Linked DNA regions of Homo sapiens. The protein of the gene in region 1 purifies or fractionates together with the protein of each later gene. This does not show direct contact. Each region holds a gene or a part of one and is shown in the gene's direction. Other genes may lie near its edges. The genes, in order: SREK1, NAA15, SRFBP1 and VPS33A.

Region 1 (6,164 bases):
ATTTTTCCATTAACTATGCAGAATTAAATCATAATTTAGTAATGCTTCCTTTGTGATTTCCAAGTGGGATTAAAAAAGGATATTACGGCCAGGCGCGGTGGCTCATGCCTGTAATCCCAGCACTTTGGGAGGCCGAGGCAGGTGGATCATGAGGTCGGGAGATCGAGACCATCCTGGCTAACACAGTGAAACCCCGTCTCCACTAAAAATACAAAAACTTCTCTGGGCGTGGTGGCGGGTGCCCGTAGTCCCAGCTGCTCGGGAGGCCGAGGCTGGAGAATGGCGTGAGCCTGGGAGGCGGAGCTTGCAGTGAGCGAAGATTGCGCCACTGCACTCCAGCCTGGGCGACAGAGGGAGAGTCTCAAAAAAAAAAAAAGGGTATATTACTATTACTGGTTCTTGGTTTTTGCTTAAAAAACTCTGGCCATATTTATTTTAAAAGAAGTGCCATTTTTCTTCAAAAGACAACATAGAACAAAATACAAAGCTTGCCTTAATTGGAAGTTGAATCTAGCTTTGTGGTGTTGGATAGGAATTGAACTAAGAAATGAACTATGTGATTGTAGTTAATTTATCTAGATTGTAAGAGTGGTTTCTGAAATTTTGAAGTGCAAAATTTTAGATTTGTAGTTTTTACATAACATTGCTATGCTGAAGACCTGCATTCTGATTCTTGGGGGGAAATGTTTTTTAATTGAACTTATGTGTTCAAGGAACAGAATGGTGGTCAGTATGGTTGAAGCATAGTGAGTGAGGGTCATGAGTGTTTGAGATTGGAGGGGATAGATAGGACACAGATTATGGTAGGGCTTTTTAGACCATGGAAAGAGGGGTTTGAGTTTTATTCTTAAGGTAATTAGAAACCATTGATGGGTTTTAAGCAGGGATATGACATGATTTGACATGTTTTAAAAAGATCAGACTGGCTGCTGTGATAAGTGACATTGATTTCATAAACTTCCGTTTTCACCATTAGCAAGTGCCATTACTTAACAGTTGTTAAAATCTTAGTTCTGTATCATATTTGTATATATAGTCATTAATGGTCAAAATGTTCTCTAATAGTATAAGTGGAAATGAAAAGAGTTGTGCTTTTTTCCTTGAAAGCTCTTTTCGTTCTGAAAAATTTTTTCTGTTTTCAAATTCTGAGATCTTACATTTCTTCTAGTTTACATTCATATTAAAAATAATACGTTCCTTAATGCTGAAAGTAAAAACTGAATTTAGTGATGCTATAGAAAGATCATTCAAAGTTTTTTTGAAGGTTTTTGCCCTTTTCCTACCATGGCATAAGTAAGGGCTCAATATTTTAGATATATTTTCTTAGGTAAACTTTCAGCATGATAATAATAACCCATTTCTTAGGGTTGATATGAGGATTAAGTTACTACCTCAGTTAAATTCGATGCTATGATAATTGTTGACTGTTAGGAACTCATACTCATACTCATCTGTGTTTTTCAATGACCAAGGTACAGTTGATTCTCATTCTTTGTGAATTCTGTATTTTTGAATTCACTTAGTAAGTAAAATTTTTTTGAAATCCCCACATCAACAGTTGGAGCACTTTTGTGGTCGTTCGTGGACATACACAGAGTGGTGAAAAATTGGGGTTTGTCTATTTGCACGGAGGTCGAAATCTTCTTGTTTTGGCACTCAGGCAGTAAACAAGCACGCAGTCTGTTTAGTGCTATGTTCTTTGAATTGTTGTGCTTTTTGTTGGTGATTTCACTGTTAAGATGGGCCCACAAGTGTAGTGCCAAACTGCTGTGTAGTGTTCCTAAGTACAGGGAGATTGTGAAGTGCCTCATGGAGAAAATATTAAATACATGTATTAGATAAGCTTCATTCAGGCCTGAATTGTAGCGCTGCTGGCTGTAAGTTCAGTGTTAATGAATCGACAATATATAACAGCTAAGGTGTCTTTAAACAGAAGAACATATAAAATAAGGTTAAATATTTTACTAGTTAATGTAAATGTGACCAGAGGCTTGTAGGAACTTCACCCTGTATTTTCCCTAGGAATAATGGTTCAATATTCAATAATTCATTGTTCACGGAAACTATAGAACATAGCTATGTCAGGTAATGAGAAACAGCCTGTCTTTTAGGGTCAAGTTTAAAAGTGGCTAAAATATCCAGACAGTAAAATATATTTCAAATTACATTTAAAACTAATGTGACCTTACTTTAATAACTCAGACATATATATGACTGAAAGTTCGGAGTCCCTAGTCTCCTTTCATTCTTGTTGAGTTAGTTCATTCTTTTCAAGATTAGAGAATGGTATCTTTGGATACTAATAGAAAATATGTGTTCTGTGTGTTTTTTTTCTTCTTTCGATAGCTTGGTGTTTCACTTAGCAGTTTGGGAGCTATACCAGCAGCAGCACTAGACCCCAACATTGCAACACTTGGAGAGATACCACAGCCACCACTTATGGGAAACGTGGATCCTTCCAAAATAGATGAAATTAGGAGAACGGTTTATGTTGGAAATCTGAATTCCCAGGTAACTAATTAAAGAAGAAACAAAGCAGCAGTAGCCCTTATTCTTTTTCTCTTCTTAAAAATCATATCAGTGGATACAGTAATATTTATCTGATTTTTTAAATGGATATATTTTATCAAAGTGTCACTTTGTTCCCTTAGACAACGACAGCTGATCAACTACTTGAATTTTTTAAACAAGTTGGAGAAGTGAAGTTTGTGCGGATGGCAGGTGATGAGACTCAGCCAACTCGGTTTGCTTTTGTGGAATTTGCAGACCAAAATTCTGTACCAAGGGCCCTTGCTTTTAATGGAGTTATGTTTGGAGACAGGCCACTGAAGTAAGAAATCCTAAACAAAGAAATTTTAATGATTTTGAAACATTTAAAGTATTTTTGATGTAATGAAGGCTTTTTTTTTCTTTTTAATAGTAATTGGCAATTTGTGGAAAGGAAGACTTTGTGTTAAGTATAAATGAAATACATGAGATACTTACCATTTTAGTCTTTAAATTCCTTTATTTAGAGACATTTATTTTCTCATTTTCTGTTTTCTAGGGTCTAATTCAGTGTTAACATTATTTATATACCCTGCATAACGGTTGTAGGTCTTTTTCCATAAACTTTAATAGTCAGGTTGGTTTTACATTATGACACTAGACTAATTGAGCAACTTAACAGGTGGGTTGAACTACAGTACTTCCAGTAACAACTGTGGTAAATTCAAAATCTACAGAAGGAAATTATAAGTGCCCAGAAATGTTTTAAACCAGAAATTTTGACTTTTGAGGTTTGCTTACATCCTTGTTTGTAAAACGTTGATAATGGCCTTCGAGATACTCCAGACCAGAAATTCTATTTCATGCAGATTGTTGAGGCATATATAGTTTTGCTTGAATTTCATAGATTGCTTTAGTTATACAATTTGATCAGGATTTTTCTGTTAAGGATAAGTTTTTAGTGGGTACTTGTCTTCCCAGTGTGGAAGGGGTAAAGCAAGACACATAATATCCATTCATGTGCATCAGAGAAGTCACTCTTACCTAGTAGAGGAAGAATTTTTTCAGATGCCTTGCACATTCAAAGCTATGTCTAACTCAGCCATGGTTCAGCGTTGGTTAAAATGGTGTACATAATATGATGATATACAGGTAGCTTACCCTTCTTCTAGAGTGTACAGGATATCAGTAAGATCTTTTGATTTGAAAATAGAAATGATTCATTTTCATATTGGTATCAACATTTTAATTTATTTTAATTCTAAGCTATGGAAAAGCACTTCATCTAGTCTGTTTGAATTAAGTTAGCTAGGGTTCAATTTTTCTTTTCTCCCTGCTTTTGGTTGTATTCGCAAGGAATGATAGGAAGTGGGGATGAGAGATTAATCATGGTTTTGAGGTTGCTTTTGGTTATTCTGTATATCATTCTTACGTGCTTCTGAGATGTCCTCACGTTTATAAATATGTGTATCATATAAATGTTTGTTTCATGTTTTATAAAATGTGGTGTGTATTTGTGATATGCTAATATTTTTAATTTAGAATAAATCACTCCAACAATGCAATAGTAAAACCCCCTGAGATGACACCTCAGGCTGCAGCTAAGGAGTTAGAAGAAGTAATGAAGCGAGTACGAGAAGCTCAGTCATTTATCTCAGCAGCTATTGAACCAGGTAAGTACATAACGTTGTTACATAGGTCATAGTTTAAAGATCATAGACTCTTAGAACTGGAAGGAATTTTAGAAATCATCTTGTTCAGTCACTTCATTTTACAAACAAGAAGACTGAAACTCAAGAAATAGTAAGTAGCATACTCATGTCAAAGAACAACTTAGCCCATATTTTATCTCTTTCTGTGATACTGAATTGAGGCACTTTAGTCTGAGCTAATCAGCTCTGTATTTTCATAGCAAAATCAGTGCTCACAAGTGATTTGCTGAAAGCAAAAATGTTATTGCAAGGCTAAAAAGAGTACATATATTTAAAACGTTACGACTCAGCAGGTTTACTTTTCCTCAACATTTTAATTTTAGAAGTAGAGAAGAGAGCCCGTGATTTAGAAAAAAATACAGATACTGTATTTTAGTAAGGTAAAAGAACATCTATTTAAACTTTTGTGTTGCTAATGAAAATAATTAAAAAACCCATTCTAAAAACATCTAGGTGGTTTACATTTGAGCAGATTTTCTAAATCAACACTTAGAATTTAAGCTTCAAATTCTAGCAGAATAAGTGGAGAAAGGACTTAAAATCACTGTCACAGGAATTACAGACATGTTGTAATCGTACGTTACGGCAGCAACAAAATATTACGAACAGCTGTTTATAATCATCTGGTTTATATGTACTGCTGCAGGGTGGCTGCACTCAACGAGTTTATGCAATGACTTTCTTGGATGTTTCTGAAGGAGGAGGATGTACAGAGAGTAGGCCCCTTGCACTATATGTGGTACATTCCACTTGTGCCTGATTATTAACTGGGATCTTTAATTGTTCTGAGCTTACACTGCAAAGTGATTTTTTCCTCCCAGAGTCTGGAAAGAGCAATGAAAGAAAAGGCGGTCGATCTCGTTCCCATACTCGCTCAAAATCCAGGTCTAGCTCAAAATCCCATTCTAGAAGGAAAAGATCACAATCAAAACACAGGTGAGAATTTCTGCTGTCATATTTAAATTTTATTTTAGTTTTGTATTTAAAATATTAAGATTTTATGAGTTTTCGTCAAAATATCAGAAGTTAGAAATTTTAGTAGTGTACACCTGAAGTGTGGTTACCTTTAAATATTGTTCTAATTGTAATACTGTAGTTGAGAATGAAATTTTGTCTAATGATACTTAATTTTTAAATATTTGAACTTATCTTTATTTTTAGAAGTTAGTTTTGTGTCTAAAGATACTCTATTCCAGATTTTTCTAAGAGTAAACTAGTCTTTATATAGAAGTGACAAAAGCTGTTTTCATTCTTCATATTGAGAAAAGGGAACATCCTTAGTGACCATGCTGAAAATAATTGCTCAAGTTGCAGCTTTTTTGTTTTGTTTTCCCAGTCTATTCCAAGTTTGGGGAGCACCACCCCAGATCTTTCACGCAATTCCCTATTTTCAGTACCACGTATCCAAAGGAACACTTTGAGTCCTTGGTATTGCTGGTGATAAGAGCCTCCTCTGCCCACTTTTGGACCTGAAACACAGGAGTAACTTGCAGTTTCAGCTTCAGTTTTAGTACTTTGCTTAAGCTCTGTTTATCTTATTTTTGATCATAGCTTTGTCCTTTTGATTTTCTTTATCTGTCATTTCTTTGTCTTTGGTATAAAGGGGACCTTAAAATGCAAATTTGGCAATACCATCCTAATTGGAAGTACCCTAAAGATCATTACTAAAGTTACAAATTTTGTTGTCTATTTTAAGGTACGGAGGGGGCTGTTTTTGAAATGTGAAAGTATGTATAGTGGATCCTAATTGCATGTTATGTGTACATACGTACTCCTATGTATGTCTTGAGAGAGCAGGGAGGGAAGAGTGTATCTGTGTATGTTGGGATTTTAAAGAAGGAGAAAGGATTTGGGGGAGGGAAAAGGAACCAGTTTGTTGTACATTGTTTTACCAGCAGGCTCAGTTTACTTTGTTTTTGTGTGTGTGTGTGTTGATCAAGGAGATTCAAAGAATGAGGAAAAATA
Region 2 (6,164 bases), on another chromosome or scaffold:
CAAATAAAATTTGTAATATTTTGACTTGCTTTAAAAATGTGTAATATTAAATATGTGTTTTTAGTTCATGCATGCCATCCTAAACATTCTGGGGTTTTTTTTTGTTTGTTTGTGCTTTTTTTTAGATGGAGTTTTGATCTTGTCGCCCAGGCTGGAGTGCAATGGCACGATCTCAGCTCACTGCAACCTCTGCCTCCCTGCTTCAAGTGATTCTCCTGCCTCAGCCTCCCAAGTAGCTGGCATTACAGGTGCACAGCACCAAGCCTGGCTAATTTTTGTATTTTTAGTAGAGACAGGGTTTCATCATGTTGGCCAGGCTGGTGTCAAACTCCTGACCTCAAGCCATCCACCCATCTTGGCCTTCGAAAGTGCTGGGATTACAGGTGTGAGCCACCATGCCTGGCCAACATTCTGTATTTTATTGACTCTGTTGAGGACCTCTGGCCTAAAAGTTGTTAGATTGAAGGTTGTTGTTTGTTTGTTTTTGAGATGGAGTTTCACTCTGTCACCCAGGCTAGAGTGCAGTGGTGTGATCTTGGCTCACTGCAACCTCTACCTCCTGGGTTCAGGTAATACTCCTGTCTCAGCCTCCCGAGTAGCTGGGAATACAGGTGCATGCCACCATACCTGGGTGTTTTTTGTATTTTTAGTATAGACGAGATTTTGCAGTGTTGGCCAGGCTGGTCTCGAACTCGTGACTTGAAGTGATCCACCTACCACTGCCTCCCAAAGTGCTGGGATTACAGGTGTGAGCCACTGTACCTGGCCAGATTGAAGTTTGAGCTTGATCTCAGAAAGAAACGTTATAAGTTTCTGGAAAGGGAAGTGGACTTCCGTTTTTCTTTTGAGTGTGTTTTAAAAAGATTATTTTGGGCCAGCCACAGTGACTCATGCCCATAATCCCAGCACTTTGGGAGGCTGAGGCAGCGATCACTTGAGGCTAGGAGTTCAAGACTAGCCTGGGCATCATAGTGAGACCTCGTCTCTATGGAAAATAAAAAATTAACTGCATGTGGTGGTGGCATGTGCCTGTGGTCCTAGCTGCTCTGGAGGCTGGGGTAGAAGGATTGTTTGAGCCCAGGAGTTTGAGGCTACAGTGAGCTATGAGTGTGCCACTGCACTCCAGCCTAGGTGATAGAGCGAGACCATCTCTTTTAAAAAACGCAATAATTAGGAGGCGGGCGGATCACGAGATCAGGAGATCAAGACCATCCTGGCCAACATGGTGAAACCCTGTCTCTACTAAAAATACAAAAATTATAGCTGGGCGTGGTGGCAGACGCTTGTAATCCCAGCTACTTGGGAGGCTGAGGCAGGAGAGTTGCTTGAACCTGGGAGGCAGAGGTTGCAGTGAGCTGAGATCATGCCACTGCACTCTAGCCTGGTGACAGAGCGAGACTCCATCTCAAAAACAAACAAACAACAACAACAACAACAAAAAACAACAAAACCCAATTACTTTGGTAGGAGAATAAAAGAAGACAGACTGAAGATAGGTGGGTTGGGTAGCTGGTACAGTAATCAAGATCTAAAGTGAAAAAGGGCTGTATTTGGGAAGTGGAATATTCTCCTCCTTGATAGCAGTTTTTACAACCTACTTTAATTTTGCTTATTTATCTGTCCTTTACTAGACTTTAAGATCTTTTAATATAGGAGGCTATTTTGATGACCTACGTCTTAGTTATTAAGAAGTTTTAGGCTGGGTTTGGGAGCTTATGCCTGTAATCCCCGCACTTTGGGAGGCCAAGGCAGGTGTATTGCTTGGGCTCAGGAGTTTGAGACCATCTTGGGCAACATGGCGAGATCCCATCTCTACCAAAAATAGAAAAAAATAGCTGGCATGCTGGTGTGTGCCTGTAGTCGCAGCTACTCAGGAGGCTGAGGTGGGAGTATCACTTGAGTGCAGGGAGTGGAGGTTGCAGTGAGCAAAGACCACACCACGACACTCCAGACTGGGTGACAGAGCAATACCTGTCTCAAAAAAAGGGAAAGAAGTTTTAATAATTACGGTTAAATGAATGAATGTTTTTATTTTATATGTGGCTGAGTTTTAGAAACTTTGTATTACACTAAGGGTTGTCCTAAGAATCTTGTTAGTTCAAGAAAATAAAATCTTCATGACTTTACATAACTGGATTCCATGAAGACCCATTCCTTCTTTTTCCTTTTACTATTAATAATATAGTAACTGTTTACATATATATATATTGACTTTGTGCCAGCCAGTGAGCACTTTATATATGTTATCCCATTTAGTTGTCAGTAGTATGATTTGCTGCATAGACTATTTGTTTACATTTTAGTAATGAGGAAACTTAATGAGACTGATTTGTCCAAGGTTACAGAGCTGATAAGGTAGGCAAGACCTAATTTTCTCTGGCTGCAAAAGCTGTGCTCTTTTCCACTGTATTAAACTGCTTTATATCTTTGAAATCAATCTCCCCCTCCCCTTCCCCTTCTTTTTAAGCTTGTAGTTTTATAAATGGCTGTGGTTCTCCAAGTTTTTTGGGAGGTCGTTTGGAATAGTAATTTTTGACTTGTAGGTTGTACCCTTAACTAAATTCTTTAGGTTGGCACGTTTATGGCCTTCTTCAGAGGTCAGACAAGAAGTATGATGAAGCCATTAAGTGTTACAGAAATGCACTAAAATGGGATAAAGACAATCTTCAAATCTTAAGGGACCTTTCCTTACTACAGATTCAAATGCGAGATCTTGAGGGTTACAGGGTAAGTAAAATAGAGACTTTTTTTTTTAATTCTAAGGGGAAAATATGTACAACTTTGAGTACTTTCAGATACATAAATTTTTTATTTCATTTTGAAAATAATTTAATTGAATTTTTTTTTCCTCCTACCACAGTGGTTATGTTTATGATTGGAATAATCAGATCTTTAAAAATAAATTATTTTATGGTGAGGCAGATTTGGCCTACTGTGTAGGGTTGACTTAATTTGATAAAAATTAACATCAGGCCAGGTGCGGTGGCTCACGCCTGTAGTCCCAGCACTTTGGGAGGCCCAGGTGGGTGAATCATGAGGTCAGGAGATCGAGACCATCCTGCCTAACACAGTGAAACCCCATCTCTACTAAAAATACAAAAAATTAGCTAGGCGTGGTGGCAGGTGCCTGTAGTCTAGCTACTCAGGAGGCTGAGGCAGGAGAATGGCCTGAACCCGGGAGGTGGAGCTTGCAGTGAGCCAAGATCACGCCACTGCACTCCGGCCTGGGTAACAGAGCGAAACTCTGTCTCAAAAAAAAAAAAAAAAAAAAAAAAAAGAAAATCAGTACTCCTCAAATAAACAATGCCTTTGTCTAGTATTGACATGTAACTCTAACATTTACTTCCCACATTTTTCTGGAAAGCAAAACAAAAAAAAAATTTTTTTTTTCTTGGAGACATTAGAGTCTCACTCTGTTGCCCAGGCTGGAGTGCAGTGGCATGATCTTGGCTCACTGCAGCTTCCACCTCCTGGGTTCAAGCAGTTCTCATGCCTCAGCCTCCTGAGTAGCTGGGGCTACAGACATGTGCCACCATGCCCAGCTCATTTTTTATATTCTAATAGAGATGAGGTTTCACCATGTTGCTCAGGCTGGTCTTGAACTCCTGAGCTCAGGCAGTCCACCCCACCTTATTCTCCCAAAGTGCTAGGATTACGGGCATGAGCTGCTGCACCTGGCAAAAACAAATGTTTTGTTTCTTCTTTCTACCTCCACTGACTCTAATATATTTTTGTAGCTTCGATTTTAACCCTTAAATTAGTGTTAGATCTATTTAGTTCCTCTTTCATATTCTTTCCTCTTTATGTATGTTAACTCTGTAGTTGGACACTTAATTTTTAAAAACATTTTTGAATATTTTTCCTTTGTGCTGTTCTTTCCATCCTGCCTCTTTTCTGGGACTGAGCAGATCAAGAAATAAAGAAGGGTCTTAAGTTTGGTCTTAAGTTTTAAAAACTTAAATCTGGTCTTAAGTTTTAAAAAAATTCTAAGATTAGCTTGGAGGCTTCATTATGTTCTTAACAAATATTTCTTTGCCTCCATAAAGCTACACAATATGGATGTTTGAAGTATTTTCTATTATTGTTCCCATCATTGTGTTGTAAAATGCTTGGGGTTGTGGGATAAATTAATGTGTGTTTTTTTTTTTTTTTTTTGAGACGGCGTCTTGCTCTGTTGCCAGGCTGCAACCTCTGCCTCCCGGGTTCAAGTGATTCTCCCGCCTCAGCCTCCTGAGTAGCTGGGACCACAGGCGTGCACCACCATGCCCAGTTAATTTTTGTATTTTTGATAGAGACGGGGTTTCACCATGTTGGCCAGGATGGTCTCGATCTCTTGACCTCGTGATCCACCCGCCTTAGCCTCCCAAAGTGCTGGGATTACAGGCGTGAGCCACTGCGCCTGGCCTAATATGGAGATCTTTTAAAGGAGCACTTGCTGTTACTAAAAGCCTAAGAAAAAGTGTTTATTTTTTTCCTTTTAAAGGAAACGAGGTATCAGTTACTTCAGCTTCGACCTGCGCAGAGAGCATCATGGATTGGTTATGCTATTGCTTACCATTTATTAGAAGATTATGAAATGGCAGCAAAGATTTTAGAAGAATTTAGGAAAACACAACAGGTAATAACTAGAAGCCATTTTACTAAGTCTGATCCTAAGTATAACTAAAAAAATAATGTGCATAGTCTGGCTTACTTTTAATTTTGAAATAGTTTCAAACTTATAGAAAAGTTGCAGGAATAGCACAAAGAACTCTACATAGGGGTTCATTCATACTAAACTAATTGTTAATATTTGGTGCATTTACTTTAAAATTTGTGTATCTATTTATCTATTTTAATTTTCTTCCTTAAATGTTTGAGAGTAATTGCAAGACATCATGCTCCTTTACCCCTAAATGCTTTAGTGTGTATTTTCTAAAAATAACTGTATAGTTTTCAGTTCTCTAGATAGTATTATAGGGATAGATTATAAAAATTAGGAAATTTAACACTGATAGACTGTTATCTAATTAATCCCCAGCCCATATTCAGAATTTACTAATTGTCCTAGTTATAGCCTTTCTAGCAATTTGATTTCATTGCAGGATCCAATTAAGAATCATACCTTACATTTAGTTATCATTTCTCTTCAGCCTCTTTTAATCTGAAACAGTTTTGAAAACTTCCTTTGTATTTTATGACATAGACATTTCTGAAGAAGGCTGTGCTTTTGTAGGATGTCCCTCAATTTGGATTTTTCTGATGGTTCCTCATTCTTAGATAGAGTTTTATAATTTTGGCAGGAAACCATATAAATGATATTGGGTCCTTCTGCGTTCATTACATCAAGAGGCACATGCCATCAGTTCGTTCCATTTGATTACATGGTGAAAGTTGTATTTGCAGTTGTAAACGTATTTTTCTCTCTTTGTGTTTAATATGCAGTTTGAGACTGAATAGCCTATTGCTCATCAAACTTTCACCATCTAGTTTTAGCATTCATTGATTATGATTCTTGCCTGAATCAGTATTACTATGATAGTCGCAAAATGGTGATTCTCTTAACTCTAGTCATTCCTTGTAGGTTTATTATTTGGCATTCTACTCCTGAGTAAGAGCTTTCCCTTCTTCCCCATATTTATTGTGTGTAAGGACTTATGGATTATTATTTTATTCAACCTGTTATATCCTAATATTGTCATTATTTACTCAGTTGCTCTGTAGATACTTAAGAATTTTTTAAAAATTAGTTTTATCAACCGGATGTTATCCTTTGACTTCTTACATGTTTTTGAGTATTGTGAACAATTTTCTGATATGAAAATAAAATTCTTACTGTCAGTATTCCTTATATCCATATACAGACATCCCCTGACAAGGTGGATTATGAATATAGTGAACTACTCTTATATCAGAATCAAGTTCTTCGGGAAGCAGGTCTCTATAGAGAAGCTTTGGAACATCTTTGTACCTATGAAAAGCAGATTTGTGATAAACTTGCTGTAGAAGAAACCAAAGGTATTTTTAAAAGAATTGTCATTTATTCTAATATTGAAATATGACAGAGCAAGGCTGAAAAATCTAGTTGCTGCTGACAGTTTCATATAATTCAGCTTTTTGATGATAGGAAATCTATTTCTTACTCGTGTACTTTTAATAGTTTATGATGTGGGAAAATGTACATT
Region 3 (3,500 bases), about 56 Mb from region 1:
AGCACAGCAAGGTGACTACAGTTAATATATTTCAAAATAGCCAAAAGAGAGGATTTAAAATGTTCCCATCACAAAGAAATGATAAATGTTTAAAGTGGTAGATATGGTAATTACTCTGATTTGATGATTCTACAATGTATGCATGTGTCAATATCACTTTGTACTCTATAAGTGTCTAAAATTATTGTCAAAATAAAACAGAAAACACATCTTAGAGTTTTATAACAATATTTATATATTTATAACATTTTATCAGCTGATAGCATTAACTGTTATTCAGAAACACAAATTGCATATAATTATAGAACCTAAAGCTGTAGTATACATAATTCTACATAACTACTCATTTTATATACCTACATACCCTGTAGACCCAAACTTTTATGTTCTCCTTTGACTCACTGCTGCTACATATGGCTGCAGAGCTCCAATTTGACAACTACAATGTGAGTGACTCTCCGGGGATTATGCAACACGGTGGCCCTTTTCGAATCAGTCTCATTTTATATAAACTTGATATTCTTCCACAAATAAGTGCTCCACAAAGATTGCAACATAAAAACACAGTTATAGAAGAAGACATTAGAAAAAAAAAATTAAAAAAATCTTCATTCATGAGATTCGTACATAATTATAGAATTGTAAATCTTTTTCTAGAGCCTTTCAGAAAAAAATGAAATTCACTGAAATGAGATTACTAAATCAGCGTTAGTCTGGGATATCTTCCAGGGCAGAGAAACAGCTTTGCTAAATAAAATTAATGATAAAATGACTCTTAACAAAATAGCATTTACCCCGGAGTCCACACTAGACATGCAAGTATTACCACTGCTCTTCTAAAACTTGTTATAACTAAGATGGGAAGATATAGCTAACTCTGGAAAGAAATACCCAGTTCAGCAAAGATTTTAGCAAGTTGTCAAAACAGGGATTTGGAAACAGCAGTAGATGTGTTTTTCAACAATTGTTTGAATACATTTTAATCAAAATCTGGTTAGGATTCCCAGAATTTCTTATGTCTGTTTTATATCTGTTCATATATTGAGAATTACCTTTGAAGTGGATTTTTAGAAACTATAAGAGGTAAACATGCTGAAAGAAGCAGTAAAAGGTAAAAAGCTGCTCCTGGAATATCTTCTTTTTTCCTATAACCTGAAGGGCAGTTTCTTGGGGAATACACTTCTCAGGATTAGTCATTTTTGTTGTCATTGTTTTTACATACCAACCTTCTGTAATTAATCCTGAGGATTAAAATATACTGCTTCTTCATTGGATACCAAATTGTTTCTACCAAGACAGAATCTCAAATTGTGTTACCAATCTGGAAGCACACTTACTGCTATAATCTGTTGCTTTAATTTGGCAACAGAAGTCTGTCATGGTAGTATTTTTATTTTAAATTTTTAAACATCACGGGCCTACTACACAGTTTTTTCTTTCTTCCTGATTTTTTAGTTCTGCCCCACCAAGGATTCTACTTGCATGTAATTTAGAGCAGGCATCACGCTTTTTCTGTAAAGGACCTGAAATGAATGCCTTTGTAAGACACACAGCTTCTGTCACAACTACTTCGCTTTACCATTGTGTCGTGAGTGCAGACATAGGCAATATATAAATGAATGACTTTGGCTTTGTTCCATAAAACTTTATTAAATAAAAGAAAGTTCCAGCGGCAGGCTGGAACAGCCCCCATGGGCCAGTTTGCCAATTCCTGGTTTTGAAAATCAAATACTTCTACAAGAATTTTTTTATAAAAGTGGCAGTACTCTATTATTCCTTTCCTGCTTCAATTGCAGTTAGTTCGCATAGAGTTTACCCCTACAGTAAGATGTTTATGTACTGTATTAGCTTTTTTATTTTAAGCACTAGCTATTAACTTTATGTTGTGGTAGGTAAAGATTTAGATCTCTTTTCTCCTTCAGGCTCTAAGTCATATATCCCCTCCATCCTCCTCATATACTTATCTCCTGATATCCCCCCTTCATCCTCCTTATATACTTGAATCAGATTAGGTGAACATTTATTGATTATGTTATTGTGACTGTGAGTCATGTACTGAGTTATTACTACTTTTCTGCATAATATTTCTGTTTTCTACAGTTTGTGATAGGTTTATTTTGTTAGTTTTCTGTCTTATCTGTAGTGTAACACCAAACTCTCCATCTGCTATTGATATGTCCTCTCCAGATATTCAGCACACCAAGTATCCCAAACCTAAGTCTCCTGTCACCATCATCCTGGGAAGTTCCTTCTGCCTAAGTCTTCTGTTTCTTGTCTCCTATGCCATTCTTATTATTTGTATCCTTCCTCATTTTAGGGGAGCCAGTAGCTTCTTGGACAGAAATGTACAAGGATGTAAATTTTTTTGAATAAACTGCATGTGTGGAAGTATTTTTCTTCTTCCCTAGGTTGGAAATTCTTTTCCTTCATAATTTTAGAAGCATTAGCTGCTCTATAGTTTGACTTCCAGAATTAAAGTCTGAAACCATTGTGATCTGTGCGTCTTTTCTTTTTAGTTTATTATTTGGTGACTTGTTTTATTATCTGAAATCTTGTAGGTCCCAATATACTAATGTGACTATTTTCATATATTGTTTTCAGTCTTCTTAGCCTGAAAAATCATGTTTTTCATTGGAGTTTCTATATTCTAGCTTTTAATACTCAAGCAAGCATGTTTGACCTATGCCTTCAGCAGCTCAGCTTGTCACTAAGTGACTCAGGATACTAGCAATAACCTTCCTTCCTAAATTATCTTTTTTCTATCTTTCCTCTATTGTATCAGGAAACTCAGCAGCAGGTTGAAGAAACAGGTTCACTTTGCGCTGTACTTAAATGAATGGTCCATGAGTAGACGACATTTCTTGGAAAAGGTTGAACAGAAGCTGTGTCTAATAGTCAGAATAGATGCGTATCAGTTTCCTAAGGCTGCCATAACAAAGTATCACAAATTGAGTGGTTTAAAACTATGTAAATTGGCCAGGCGCGGTGGCTCACACCTGTAATCCCAGCACTTTGGGAGGCCGAGGCAGGTGGATCACAAGGTCAGGAGTTCGACACCAGCCTGGCCAACGTGGTGAAACCCCATCTCTACTAAAAATACAAAAATCAGCTGAGCGTGGTGGCGGGTGCCTGTAGTCCCAGCTACTCGGGAGGCTGAGACAGGAGAATCGCTTGAACCCGGGAGGCGGAGGTTGCAGTAAGCCAAGATCACGCTACTGCAACTCCAGCCTGGGTGACAGAGTGAGACTCCCAACAACAACAACAAAAAAGTAAATTTATTTTCTCACAGTTGAGGAGGGTGAAAGCTTGAAATTAAGGTGTCAGTGAGGCCACACTTTCTCTGGAAGCTCCAGAGGGGAAACTTTCCTGTGTCTTTGAGCTACTGGTGGCTGATGCCAGGATAACTCCAATCTTTGCCCTTAGTGTTCACGTAGTCTTTACTGTGTCTCTCTGTGCCCCTATATCAAAATATTCTTCTCCTTATAAGGAAACCAGTCTTA
Region 4 (6,164 bases), on another chromosome or scaffold:
GAAATGTTCTTGAGAAATTAGCTTTCATTCATACTGACGCTCATTCTGGGGTCTGTACTGAAATCCTAAGGATACAAAAGAGTGCACTTGTCGACTGTATCTAGTGTAACTTAGGAGTGCAGAGGCCTAGCGTTTTCCATGTTTCCTAAAAGATTTTCTTCAGGTGATGACTTGAACTTATTGCTTGCTTGCTTTTTTGCATGATGTCTGGTTTCTTTTCTTTTGAGACAGAGTCTCGCTCTGTTGCCCAGGCTGGAGAGCAATGGTGTGATCTTGGCTCACTGTAACCTCCGCCTCCCCGCCTCAAGTGATTCTTGTGCCTTAGCCTCCCGAGTAGCTGGGACTACGGGTGTGTGCCACCATACCCAGCTAATTTTTGTGTTTTTGGTAGAGATGGGGTTTGGCCATGTTGGTCAGGCTGGTCTTGAACTCCTGGCCTGAAGTGATCCACCCACCTCGGCCCCCTACAGTGCTGAGATTACAGGTGTGAGCCACCGTGCCCAGCCACATGTCTAGTTTCTGAATCGTGCTCTGTGTATAAAAGCATGCCACTCAAGTAAATTAACATTTAATTTCTAAGTTGCAAATTTGCTAATTTCATTTTAGCTTCTGAAGACTTTTTTGATAAATTAACCGTGGAACAGGAGTTTATGTCTGGAATAGACACTGATAAGGTATGTGGACAAAAAAACCTCTTTAACAAGTAATTGAAAGCTTATTAAACCTCAGATTATAGCCAGAAAACCAATTGCTTTGATTCCCATGCCTTGCCTTTTTTTTTTTTTTTTTTTTTTTTTTTTTTGAGACGGAGTCTCACTGTGTGTCACCCAGCTTGCTCTGTTGCCCAGGCTGGAGTGCAGTGGCGCCATCTCTGCTCACTGCAAGCTCCGCCTCCCGGGTTGACGCCATTCTGCCTCAGCCTCCCGAGTAGCTGGGACTACAGGCGCTCACCACCACACCTGGCTAATTTTTTGTATTTTTAATAGAGACGGGGTTTCACCATGTTAGCCAGGATGGTCTCGATCTCCGACCTTGTGATCCGCCCACCTTGGCCTCCCAAACTGTTGGGATTACAGGCGTGAGTCACTGCGCCCGGCCACTTAAATATTTTTAAGAGCAAATGCAAAATGTGCAAGTGTAGATTTTATCAAGTAACAGATATTTAACATTATTCTGTGCAAGACACTTTCTGCCATACATGGCAACATGAGACCTGGCCCCTAAAATCAAATCTTTTTAAGACTGTATTAGATAAGGTATTTGCTCTTTTGAAAGAGTTTCTTATATAACTCCTTTAAATAGCTCTATTAACAAATTTTAAATTATTCACTTTATGAAAATTCCTAACATAAAACAATTACTGATACTTTTTGCTAGATTAGTTGTTGATACTATTGAAATGGAGTAGACATCTGGTAGCCTCTCAGAAGCGTGTCCTTAGAGACAGACGTGTCCAGACAGGCATATGGAGTGACCAATTGTATTCTCAGCGGCCTTGGGCTCCAGTGACTTGGCCTGATCACTGGGGGGTGTGTGTGTGTGTGTGTGTGTGTGTATGTATGTATGTGTGTGTGGGGTGTGTGTGTGTGTGTGGTGGCCAGGGTGTGTGTGTGGCTGGGGCTAGCAGAGCTATTTCGGGGAAGGGTTAGGGACTGTGGAAAAATAACTCATTTTCCCACGTATCTCCTTTATTGGACTTTGAAAAATAATAATAAACATCAAGTTAAGTTCCTAAACCATGTATTGTGTGTGTGTGTGTGTGTGTGTGTGTGTGTGTGTGTATGTATATGTAAATGTATATGTATATGTATGCTACTTTATTTCCAGGTCAACAATTACATTGAGGATTGTATCGCCCAAAAGCACTCGTTGATCAAGGTGTTAAGACTAGTTTGCCTCCAATCCGTGTGTAATAGTGGGCTCAAACAAAAAGTTTTGGATTATTACAAAAGAGAGATTCTCCAGGTGAGTATATTTTTAAATTATTAATTTGCCAAGGGGGACAGCATCTTTTTAAAAAATACTTCATGGGCCGGGCACAGTGGCTTACGCCTGTAATCCCAGCACTTTGGGAGGCCAAAGCAGGTGGATCACTTGAGGTTAGGAGTTTGAGACCAGCCTGGCCAACATGGTGAAACCCCCATCTCTATTAAAAATACAAAAATTAGCCAGGCATGGTAGCATGCACCTGTAGTCCCAGCTATTTGAGAGGATCAGGCAGGAGAATCGCTTGAACGCAGGAGGCGGAGGTTACAGTGTGTCAAGATCATGCCCCTGCACTCCAGCCTGGGCAACAGAGTGAGACTCTGTCTCAAAAAATAATAATAAAAAATTTAAAATTAAAAAAAATAAAAATTACAAAGCTGCCATTTTGGTATCTTGTAACGACTGTTGTATAAATTTTTTAACACCTAGAGGAATTGGTCTTGGTAGCCATCACTGTTTATTGTATTTGTGTGATAATAATAGCTAACAGGCTGGGCACAGTGGCTCACCTCTGTTATCTCAATATTTTGTGGGGCTGAGGCAGGAGGATCGCTGGAGGCCAAGACCAGCCTGGCAACATAGCAAGACCCTGTCTCTACAAAAAAAATACAAAAATTTACCAGGCATGGTGGCTGTGTCTGCAGTCCCAGCTACCCAGGAGGCTGAGTTAGGAGGATTGCTTGAGCCCAGGAGTCCAAAACCAGCCTAGGCAACATAGCTTGTTTACAAAAAGTAAAAAATAATAATAATAGGTAACATTTCTTGAGCATTTACTATGTGCTAGGATCTATTGGAAAAACTTTATAGGCCGGGCGCGGTGGCTCTGTACCCTGACTCTACTAAAAATACAAAAAATTAGCCGGGCGCGGTGGCGGGCGCCTGTAGTCCCAGCTACTCGGGAGGCTGAGGCAGGAGAATGGCGTGAACCCGGGAGGCGGAGCTTGCAGTGAGCCGAGATTGCGCCACTGCAGTCCGCAGTCCGGCCTGGGCGACAGAGCGAGACTCCGTCTCAAAAAAAAAAAAAAAAAAAAGAAAAACTTTATGTGCATTCATTTGTTTCATCTTCACAATACTTCCTTGTTAACTGTAGTTACCATAACAACAACAACAAATATTCACAACAGCCTTGTGAGTTAGAGACTGCTATCGTCCCAGTTTTATGGATGAAAAACTGAGGCACAGACTAGTTTAGGTAACTCACCCAAGGTTACCTGGCTGGTAAGTGGCACAGCCAGTGGTAAACCAGGCAATTTGAGTGTAGCGCCCATGTTCTTAACTCCGCAGTTATACCACGGAGGAAAAGAACTTTCTGCAAATTTCTGATGACAGTTGCTTAGCAGGTTTACTTAAATTAAGCCTGTGTTACTTATAATAAGGAAAAGGCCACTCTTGTTTTTGAAAAGTCTCCCCTTTGTTTGAAAATGACTCAGGTAGTATTTATTTGCTGTTACCAGTGACAGTTAAGTACATTTTTATTAAAATTGAGTGCTCATTAATTTTTTGTTTTTGTCTTTTTTTAAGTTATGTATCCTTGTGTAAGAGTCAAATAATGCAGAAGTACACAGAGCAAAATGTGAACGTCCCCTGTACCTTGCTCATACCCCAGTTTCCCTCCCCAGATGTGACCAGTGTCAGCAGTCTGATTTGCTTCCTTCCAAACTCCATTCTTTGCATTTAGACAGAATGTTTCCATACACAGACTTCAGAGCAAGACTGGCTGGATCCAGGTTTCAGCTCTGCTCTTCACTAGCTGTGTGACTTTAGGCAGGTTATTTAAACATCTCTGTAAAATGAAGGTAATGATACCTACGTCATGGGGTTAGAGCCGGGATGACTGAGTTAATGTATGTAAGTGCTTAGACCAGAACAGTGCCCAGCTCATAGAAAGTATTTTATAAGTGTTGGCTACTTTTTAAAATTTATTTATTTTTTGAGACAGTATCTCACCCTGTTGCCCAGAGTGGAGTGCAGTGGCACAATCTTGGCTCACTGTAACCTCCTGGGTTCAAGCGATTCTCCTGCCTCAGCCTCCCGAGTAGCTGGGATTACAGGTACATGCCACCAGGCCCAGCTAATTTTTTAATTTTTAGTAGAGACAGGGTTTCACCATGTTGGCCAGGCTGGTCTCAAACTCCTGACTTCAAGTGATTGGCCCGCCTCGGCCTCCCAAAGTACTGGGATTACAGGTGTGAGCCAGCATGCCCAGACCTTGGCTACTTTTTAAAAATAGAAATAATGTCCTACTCTACATGTTATTTTTTTTTTAATATATTCTGGAGACCTTTCTTATCAGGATGTATACATATGCCTTACTCTTTTTTAGAGCTAATTATATCCCTTATAAAAATATACTATCATTTATTTGATGCTTGCTTAGATTGGGTCCATAAATTCTGACTTTAAAGTAAAAATTTTAAATTTCTCTTTGAAACAGTGAGCTGAATTAATAGTAACAGGCAAGCAGTTTTAGGACAAGTTTCATCCCTCCACCCTGTCCTCTGTGCCCATCCACTAACATTGCTGGACTTTGGTAACATGTCCTGCAGTACAAACCAAATTGATTTGTTGGAAGTGCCCTTCTTTGAAAATTGCAGAAATCCTTTTCCTGATCTGACATCAAGGCCAAATGACTTCCCTTGCAGACATACGGCTATGAGCACATATTGACCTTACACAACCTGGAGAAGGCCGGCCTGCTGAAACCGCAGACGGGGGGCAGAAACAATTACCCAACTATACGGAAAACATTACGCCTCTGGATGGATGATGTTAATGAGCAAGTAAGCCACACTTCTCCACCTCGTCTCAGCTTAGGGACTGGTTAGATCGTCCAGGTGACAACACATGCTTCTGAACCTACACATCTGCCTTGCTTTCTGAAAACAATTTTCTAATGTTTTTGAAAAAGTAATGTATGCATGTATTGTATCCATCAGAATCCTAGAAGGACACAGAGAATGCTCTTAAACTGGGGAGTTTCTGGAGAGTTTAATAAAGATGTGGGCTGGGCGCGGTGGCTCACACCTATAATCCCAGCACTTTGGGAGGCCGAGGCGGGCAGATCACTTGAGCTCAGGAGTTTGAGAACAGCCTGACTAACATGGGAAACCCCATCTCTACTAAAAATACAAAAATTAGCCCAGCATTGTGGTGCGTGCCTGTAATCCCATCTACTTGGGGGGCTGAGGCAGGAGAATTGCTTGAACCTGGGAGGCGGAGGTTGTAGTGAGCTCAGATCATGCCATTGCACTCCAGCCTGGGCGACAGAGCAAGACTCTGTCTCAAAAAAAAAAAAAAAAAAGTTATGGGGCAGGCTCGGTGGCTCATTCTTGTAATCCCAGTATATTGGGAGGCTGAAGGGTCAGATCGCTTGAGTCCAGGAGTTCGAGACCAGCCTGGGCAACATGGCAAAACCTTGTCTCTACAAAAAAAATGGCCAGTGGTAGTATGAGCCTTTAGTCCGAGGGGCTGTGGTTAGAGGATCACTGAGCCCAGGAGGCGGTTGCAGTGAACCATGTTTGTGCCACTGCACTCCAGGCTGGGCTACACAGTAAGACTCTGTCTCAAATAAATAAAGATGTGGGAAGAGTGGAGAGGCAGTGCAGTGGGGAGCCCTTGCCAGCCACGGCCTGAAGGACAAGGAGAGGGGGGTGTTCTAGAAACTTGTCTTAGAACCTGGAGAGAAGAGCTGTGGTGAGGCCATCTGGTGAGGTAAGGGGTGAGGGGCCTCTGGCTGAGGGTATGGTCAACCTCCAGCAGAGGAAGCTGGCCAGTGACAACGTCATCCTCACACTGCTGCCCACTCTCCAGTTCACTCTGGTGCTTTGTCTTGGTCAGACCCAAAGAGAAGGCATTGGAGTGTGTTGGTGTGGGACGCACAGGTCCATCTCCGGGCACAGAGCATTGCGGAGAAGGGTGGAGAGTGTCTAGAGGAGTCAGTGGAGATGTCCAGCACTCATAAACAAGCCAGCCATGGCCAGGCGCGGTGGCTCACACCTGTAATTCCAGCACTTTGGGAGGCCAAGGCAGGAGGATCACTTGAGGTCAGGAGTTCAAGACCAGCCTGGCCAACATGGTGAAACCCTGTCTCTACTAAAAAATACAAAAGTGATCAGGGCATGGTGGAGCATGCATCTGTAGGCCCAGCTACTGTACTCAGAAGGCTGAGGTGGGAGCCT

The links.
Region 2: the proteins of SREK1 (region 1) and NAA15 fractionate together in Homo sapiens (co-fractionation; one large-scale study listed by BioGRID). This does not show direct contact.
Region 3: the proteins of SREK1 (region 1) and SRFBP1 purify together in Homo sapiens (co-immunoprecipitation; one large-scale study listed by IntAct). This does not show direct contact.
Region 4: the proteins of SREK1 (region 1) and VPS33A fractionate together in Homo sapiens (co-fractionation; one large-scale study listed by BioGRID). This does not show direct contact.

Annotation. Positions count from the first base shown.
Region 1 is NC_000005.10:66,159,763-66,165,926, forward strand, and holds part of SREK1 (splicing regulatory glutamine/lysine-rich protein 1), read left to right. Parts: intron 1-2,346; coding exon 2,347-2,511; intron 2,512-2,651; coding exon 2,652-2,830; intron 2,831-4,029; coding exon 4,030-4,160; intron 4,161-4,845; coding exon of another isoform or gene 4,846-4,895; exon of another isoform or gene 4,896-5,020; coding exon 5,021-5,135; intron 5,136-6,164. UniProt on the Homo sapiens protein: Participates in the regulation of alternative splicing by modulating the activity of other splice facors. Inhibits the splicing activity of SFRS1, SFRS2 and SFRS6. Augments the splicing activity of SFRS3.
Region 2 is NC_000004.12:139,338,343-139,344,506, forward strand, and holds part of NAA15 (N-alpha-acetyltransferase 15, NatA auxiliary subunit), read left to right. Parts: intron 1-2,569; coding exon 2,570-2,727; intron 2,728-4,483; coding exon 4,484-4,618; intron 4,619-5,843; coding exon 5,844-5,997; intron 5,998-6,164. UniProt on the Homo sapiens protein: Auxillary subunit of N-terminal acetyltransferase complexes which display alpha (N-terminal) acetyltransferase (NAT) activity. The NAT activity may be important for vascular, hematopoietic and neuronal growth and development.
Region 3 is NC_000005.10:122,013,975-122,017,474, forward strand, and holds part of SRFBP1 (serum response factor-binding protein 1), read left to right. Parts: intron 1-3,500. UniProt on the Homo sapiens protein: May be involved in regulating transcriptional activation of cardiac genes during the aging process. May play a role in biosynthesis and/or processing of SLC2A4 in adipose cells.
Region 4 is NC_000012.12:122,234,388-122,240,551, reverse strand, and holds part of VPS33A (vacuolar protein sorting-associated protein 33A), read left to right. Parts: intron 1-606; coding exon 607-674; intron 675-1,827; coding exon 1,828-1,965; intron 1,966-4,628; coding exon 4,629-4,766; intron 4,767-6,164.